Homo sapiens: one gene and its partner. The protein of the gene in region 1 interacts with the protein of each later gene in a biochemical or structural test. Each region holds a gene or a part of one and is shown on either strand. Other genes may lie near its edges. The genes, in order: FGF6 and FGFR2.

Region 1 (3,914 bases):
GCAGAGGTTTTCGTCAATGTGCTTAGAAGCTGGTTGCATTAACCCAAGTGCCAGCATTGGCACTCCCAGAGGTGACCTATGGGGGTGGGGATGGGAATGGGTGGGACTGGTACCAGCCTAAAGTGTATAACGGGTAGGCTGCTTCTCTAGCGTACGTGATCGGAGACCAGAGGATTGAAAACCCTAGTGCAGAATCTCAGCACACTGATGAGGATGAAAATAGCCTCCCATTCCACTCCTCCTGCTGCGCACGAGGCTGGGGCATCTTGCAGGGCGCGTGTCATGGAGCAGCGCACCCAGGCAGAGAGACAGACTTGCTCTCGGGGCCTCGCCAGTGCAGGGAATCACACCTGCTCACAAGCCTGGATGCCAGAATGTGGGTTTCCCTCTGGCCCACGGGCTCCCTGAGCTGTGGTTTCCGTTTAAGCACACGGGCTCCGGCCGGCAGGTGGGAACAGAAGAAGCACGGGCCAGGGCAGAGGACAATCACCCGTGAGGCTGAAGAAGCACAAGCTGCAAGGCCCCTCCCTTTCACAGGCTCCTCTCACAGCCTTTCCTTTCCCATTTAGATAGTCACTTCTCTACTCAGGACTTCATATTATTTTCTTCAACTGTGTAAGCATCAAGCCTTGTAAACCTGGCACTTCCCCGGCCTGGTGAACTCACCGTTGCGTACAATCTTCCTTTACTGTTCATGGCAACGAAGAGGGCACTTCTCACTCCAAAGAGACTCACCACGCCTCGCTCCACAGTGGAAATTTCCAGCAGGCCTGACAAGGAAAGGGGGGCCACATTACCTAAGGCTTGTGCAAATCAGAGTGGGAACTTGAGCCGACAAGGGCATCTCAGTCCATCCCCCTTCTCCTAGAAAGCCAGACTCTCCATTGCCCCATCCATGATCCCTCTAACTCTAGGAGACCCTGGCTGCTGGACTCATCGAGTGCTGCCATTGTGCTGTTAGAAATCCAGTTCTGCAAGGGAAGGTTCTGATAGCAGAGTTAGGGGCTGCAGTGACCACTTAGCTATCTGTTTAAGATGAGCTTTGAATCTGGGCTTTCAGTGACATAATTACTTGAGGTCCTTGACTTGAGTAAAAAAATAAATTCTGATTCTTCTTCTTCTTCTTAATGTGTACTCTACATGTTTCAACAAATCTCAACCCACTTAATCTTGAAAACACAGCAGCCACACCATAGCTGATGGCTTTCTTGGATCCTGCAGCCCCCATCCTTTCTTGGATAGGAGACTAACCATACAGCAAGCTGGCAGCTTGCAGGCAGCTTGCAGGATAAGAACCTGGGGACAGAGGGAGCCGCTGAAATAAAAAGAAGGATGTGCTTCAGTTGGACATTTTGCAATTGAATTTCCCTTCCTTCTCCAAGAAAGAAGCTGAATAAAAATGAGCTTGTGTCAAATTTGATCCAAGTATACTAACTGATTCTCCCTACCCAGGCCTTGGGGGCTTCCCAGACTAATGGTTCCTAATGGTCTTACAAGGCATCAGATGGGCCAGTAATGCTGAAATAGTTAGTGCCACTGAGGATCTAACCAAGGCGATGGCAAAGAACACCAGGATGCTTGGACCGCAGTATATTGAGCTTGCACCCAGGCAGGGTCACGTGGAATCATCTAAGTGGTGAGCAGCATTTCTGCCCCCTTTATCGTGCATCCTGTCCGCTAGAGCAGGGCCCCTTCACCTTTTAGCCCTGCATGAGCCCAAACCCCCAAGCGTCCCGACTGGCTGCAGCTGGCACTCACTGTAGGGGTTCTCCTCGTGGGTCCCGCTGATCCGGCCGTCGGGGAGCACCTGGAGGTGAAAGCCGATGCCCACGTTGCAGTAGAGCCTCCGCTGCCGCTTGATCCCCACCAAATAGCCACTTTCCCAGTTCACCCCGGCAATCTCTCCAGCTAGCCCGGCGCGAGACCTGGACAGCAGGGTGCCCCAGCCCCTCGAGTCCAGCAGCGTGTTGTTGGCACGGGTGCCTGCAGGCGAGGGCACCACCATGCCCACTAGGATGCCTAGGAAGACGAGAGCCCACAGCGTGCCCTGCAGACGTCCTGCTCCCCGGGACATAGTGATGAACAGTTTCTGTCCCAGGGCCATCCACCTTGCCTCTCAGGCACGTGGTCAGAATTAATGGCCCTAAAAATACCGCCCTTCTTGTTTTTCTCCCTCCGGCATGGCGGCAGGGGCTTATTTTTGGAAGGCAGATGAAGGCTGCTGACATGAAACCAAAGCCTCCATCGGGCACTCGGGTTGAGAGCAGAGGGACCCAGGCTGAGCCGCGGCCGGTAGAGACCATGGCTCGGGGACGCTCTCTAGCTCGCCCGCTTGCTCCGTCCCTAGTTGATGATATTTGATTTGACCTATCTTTATAGTTGCTTCAGCAGCCCGGCCCTCCCCTCCACCCATCATCGCCCTGACGTCAACCCGCCCAGCTCACTTATCCAGGGCTGTAACATTAACCTGCTCTTGGGCCTGGCTGCCTCCCCAGACCCCCATCACCCTCCACACTCCCCAGGGGTTCTGGGAGCCACTGTCATTCCAACTATGAGGCAGGAATGAAGTGAGCAGGGAGCATCTCTGGGGGAGGGGGGAGCTGGCTGGGGGCCCAGGGAAAGAGAGAGGCGAGAGGCCACCCAGGACCCATATTGGGCAGAAGTTCTTTGCCTGGCAGCGCTGGCTTCCTTATTTAGAGGGCAATAGGTAGAGGCAGGGATGGGAAAAGGCTTGTGGTAGTGATGACCGTAGCCTCAAGTCACCCTTGAGATCTTTTCATGGAAACAGCTCATGGTGGAGGGGAACACTGAAAGGCCAAACCCTTTCAGCAGGAGGGCACAGACATTCTCAGGGGGTGGGGATGGGGGTTGTTCAAGGAGCTTTAAGATTGTGGAGGGAAGGAGGGCAAGGGCAAGGTTTGCCTGCTCACTGTCCTGGTCCCGACATTCACCTGGGGTGGAAGTTGTGTCTGGCCTTTGACACAGCCCCCTGGCCATTCTCCCTGGATTTATCCCTGGCATGTGACTGATATTATTCCCATTTCACAGATGAGGAAGTTGAGGCTTAGAGAGGATAAATGACCTGCCCGAGTTACCATAGCTAATAAGTAGCAAAGCCAGAACTTCTAAGGTGTGCCTGAGTCTAAAGCCTGTGCATGTCTAATGCTTGCAGTAGAAGTTGGCTGGCCCATAGAGTCTGTTTAGCTCCTTAAATGCCAATAGCACATCACAGAGTTATTTCAGTAGCATAAAATGATTTATTTCTTAAAAAAAACTTGAGTGTCTTTGATGTACATGAGAACTTCTATATTTGCAGATAACTTTTGCTGGGCTGATATTACACTCAGAAACTAGTAAAAATATTTCTGCCAGGAAGTTATTCCTACACTGATTTATCTTATTCCCATATTACTTTTAAATAGATTACATGTCTAACTGAAGTGAGAAAAAAAATGTAAAGCTACCAGAAAACTCACTGCACAAATTTCTATACAATATAAGACAGAACTATTAATACGTCTCTGAGGGTGAATAAGTTAACAAGGGTCGCTGGGGAATTGAATTAACTTGAGTTAAAAATCCTGTTTCTTGTACTTCAATCCAGGCCTTAATCTGTTGGTGAGACATTAGCACTGATTTTGCCGGGATTGGAGAGAGTATGTGTGGGGTGATGACAGTGGCATACAGATGGATTTGAGTGTCCTGAGCAGTAGAGCTGGTCCCAGCAGGCAGCTCCCTTAGCCACACTCTACACCCACATTGCAGGCTGCAGGCAGCCTGGAAAAGCTCCTGGGGTGAGTTCCATGGCCCAAGGACTCTACTGAGGCACCACCGCCTTCCCTCTGATTCTAAACCTTCTGCTGTGCCCTGGGTCCCAGCCTCTGGTCTGTGGCTTCTACCTGCCTTCTCTCTGC
Region 2 (3,814 bases), on another chromosome or scaffold:
ATACTGCATATTCTCATTTATAAGTGGGAGCTAAATGATGAAAACTCATGAACACAAAGAAAAGAACAACAGACACTGAGGTCTACTTGAGGGTGGAGGGTGGGTGGGAGGAGAGAGAGGAGCAGAAAAAATAGCTATTGGGTACTGGGCTTAATACCTGGGTGATGAAACAATCTGTACAACGAACCCCCATGACACGAGTTTACCTACATAACAAACCTTCACATGTACCCCCAAACCTAAAATAAAAGCTAAATTTAAAAAAAAAAAGAACTTGGCCTCAAGTTCTTGACCAAACTACACTAAGAAGGCAAGTCAGGGAGGAAGATGGTGTGGTAAAGATGGGGTATGATTAGCAACACCAAGCATTTCAATGCTAGGAAAGCTAAAAAAAGTAGAGCCATCTCTAAATCTCATGGGATACAGCAAAAATCTCTAAATCATATGGGATACAGCAAAAAGATGGAAAAAAATGCAAAACTTAAGGCTAGGACAGGTGTGGTGGCTCACACTTGTAATCCCAGCACTTTGGGAGGCCAAGGCTGCCAGGAGTTGGAGACCAGCCTGAGCAACATGGCGAAACCCCATATCTACGAAATATTTTTAAAAATTATCCAGGCCTGTAGTCCCAGCTACTCAGGAGGTTGGAGGACCCCTTCAGCCCAGGAGTCCGAGGGTACAGTGAGCCACGTTTGACAATGCAGTGAGGGTACAATTGCACCATTGTACTCCAGCCTGGGTGGCAGATCAAGACTCTGTCTCAAAAAACAAAAACAAACAAAAAACCAAAGGCTAAAATCATCTCTCAAGGAAAAAAAAATAGAGACCATAAGCATTTTGCACAGTTGCATAAAACCTACTGGATCAGAATTATCTGTGGAATAGCCTAAAAAACTTCCAAAAAATAATTTCTGAACTGCCTACAGAGATGTCCCCCTGGCGAGAATCGGACCAGTACAGTGGAGAGTAGCACACCAGCTATATTTCCTACCTAGCTTAACAGCCAGGCACCCAAAAATCAATTTCCCATGTTTTCCTTTAATGACTAAAATTCGCTTCCATGGAAATGTAAGGGTAAGCTAGATTAGAGGGAGTTTTTAACAATTACCCTGGCTAAACAAACACCTAAACAACAGTCTGCAAACTGGAAGACTAGTGGATACATTTTATTGAAACTACGAACATTAAACAAAACACTTCCAGTTTAAACACGACCCCAGTTATTTCATAGCCATGTAATTATTTGTTAAGTCTGATATTAAAAACATCTCATATTGGATTGCTGTGGTTTTGTGAATTCTCACCCTCAACTGGGTCAGAAAGACTTGAAAGGAATAAAGTCTTTACTTATGGCTTGATGCGGGGCCATTGGCATAGTAAGTGCTCTGTCTTTTAACTGGTTGAAATAAACAGACAAAACAGAAACACACACATATACCCCAAATTTGAATCAGAGAGAGCCAGTATAAAATGATACAAGTACCAGTTCTCTGGGCTTGCCAGATTTCTGCTCTATAAGTAATATTAAACATGGCTCTTGGTCTATGAATTGTGAAACACTTTATATACTAATAAAGAATGTGTACTTCATTGTGTATTTAACTGCGTAAGCCTGTATTTGGTTTAATTGACCAAGAATAAGTCCTTGTTCCAAAGCTAACTATCAAGTTACAGTCAACTCTTAAATATTAACACTCATATTGAAAAACAAAGATGCAGATAATACGAAACAGAAGATTATTTTAAATCATTCACTCTTGGTATGCGGATATATTCTTTCTTCCTTTCTTTTAACTTGCAATTAAATGCGTATGGTTAATATTATGGCATTTACAATACTTCTAACAAAGGACTTAAACCATACTGGAAAAATCTGACTTAGGGAGGTCTCTGTGTAGATCCTGTCCTCGACGTTTCTGCTACTGAACTCTGGACCAACTCACGTTGGTCCAGGAGAGCATCACCTCTCAGAAGATTGACAAAAAATTGCTACACAAACTACATTTTTTTTCAGGTTGTTACTTTTCAGAGTCACACTCTGTGGAGGGTGGGAAAGTAATTAAGGGTGTAGGGTTGAAAAGCCCTTTCATTTTAGCTCCTACTGGGTTGGTGTAAACAAAGATGCCATTAATGTCAACAATGACTTAATTAACCAGAGTAGGTGACAATGTCAGGAAGAACTTGAAAGTAAGAGTTGCCCCCTCTCAGGGTAATCAAGCTTGACTAGACTTCAAATATTTATAATGTTAATCAACAGAATAGTACTTGGCATTGAGGACTGCCCCCCTTCGAGTCAATAACCATGTTTTCACTCCTCTGCTGGTGCCCTATAACAATGAATGACCAAAAGGAAATTAACAATGAATGACCAACTGGAAAACTCATATTTAATCTGAAATATTAAAAACTAAAATCTTCTAGAGATTATTTTCTTAAGTCAATTGAGTGGGCCCAACCCCACTGCTACTATTTCAGAACGTGTCCAGAAGACAAATGATATATATGATATATGATATGACATATGATATGATACGATATTGCACAAAGCCAAGATGACTAAACATAACCTTTCCCTGAGGGGCCAAAAGAAAAGGACCCTCTAGTGTTAGGGCCCAGGCTTCTTCCTGGAACTTCTCAGTCACATTTTTCTCCTATCCAATAGACATTATCTAAACTGAGCTTCCAAATAAATTAGCAAACCAAAAAGTCTTACAAGATAAGACCTTGGTGCACAGAAGGTCAAGGTGGAACTTACTGCTAACCAAAGCTATAGTAGTTCTAATCATGGAGAACTGATGGACAGGGGCACAGGCACGCACGCACGCACGCGCACTCGCGCACACACACACACACACGCACACTCTCTCTCTCTCTCTCTCTCTTCCAATTCACCAGCACAGAGCCTAAACCTGAGCCCATTTTCAGCTGTTAAAAACTCCTTTCTCATCTATAATTCAATGACCTTCCTAATCACCTCTGACACCAAAGCGAACTCCTGCAACAGAAGAACTGGTCTTAGGGCTCAAATCAGTGGCCAGTATTAGACTAACAGATGAGGGGAAGTGGGGACCCTACAGAAAGCAAACACAGCTTCCTGGAAACACCAAGGGCCTCCTCCATCCAAAAACAACTTTCTTCTCAACTGTCTCCAAAAGCCTAGATGTTTTTTGACATTGTGGCACCTGGCACAGCCAGCCCACGGGACTGGGAAGACCCATGTTCCCAGCTCCCTGGCGACAACGGCGACAAGGCCATGCACCCGGTGCTTACTGGATGCCAGCCCCTGTGCTAATTGCTCTTTATGTCCAGGTCAAATGGAAATCTCCTAACAACCTTTTGGTGGAAGAGTCAGAAGACTTCTGAGGACATTAATATTCAATGACTATTAATGAAGAGACCCTAAAGATCATCTTCTTAAGCCCTCAGACGACAGAAAGGGAAACTGAGGCCTGGGACTTGTATACTTTTCCAAAGCCTCTTCTTTGCCAGGTTTTGCACCTTCCTCTAAGACATCTTTTCTTTTCCATCTCATAATTCTGGATGCAAATGAACTCATAGCTCATGGAAACTATAAACCCATAAAAATGCACAAAAGGACATTAACAAAATATTACCTAAAATTTCCAGAACTTCATCGACCTCCTTCCTGATCCATAAGTGCATCCACAGATCCCAGGTTGAGCAGGCCTGCTTCCAACAATACCCACATTGTTGGATGTAAATTCTTACACAAAGACTCACTCGGGGAACTTCGTCCCTTTCCACGATTTCTTCCCTCTGCCTCACCTGTCCCTCCCTGCATGTATACACAATT

Evidence for each region.
Region 2: the proteins of FGF6 (region 1) and FGFR2 interact in a test that uses a peptide from one of them, tested with the Homo sapiens proteins (one study listed by BioGRID).

Annotation. Positions count from the first base shown.
Region 1 is NC_000012.12:4,443,467-4,447,380, forward strand, and holds the start of FGF6 (fibroblast growth factor 6 precursor), read right to left. Parts: upstream 2,350-3,914; 5' UTR 2,105-2,349; coding exon 1,759-2,104; intron 771-1,758; coding exon 667-770; intron 1-666. UniProt on the Homo sapiens protein: Plays an important role in the regulation of cell proliferation, cell differentiation, angiogenesis and myogenesis, and is required for normal muscle regeneration.
Region 2 is NC_000010.11:121,588,152-121,591,965, forward strand, and holds part of FGFR2 (fibroblast growth factor receptor 2 isoform 1 precursor), read right to left. Parts: intron 1-3,814. UniProt on the Homo sapiens protein: Tyrosine-protein kinase that acts as a cell-surface receptor for fibroblast growth factors and plays an essential role in the regulation of cell proliferation, differentiation, migration and apoptosis, and in the regulation of embryonic development.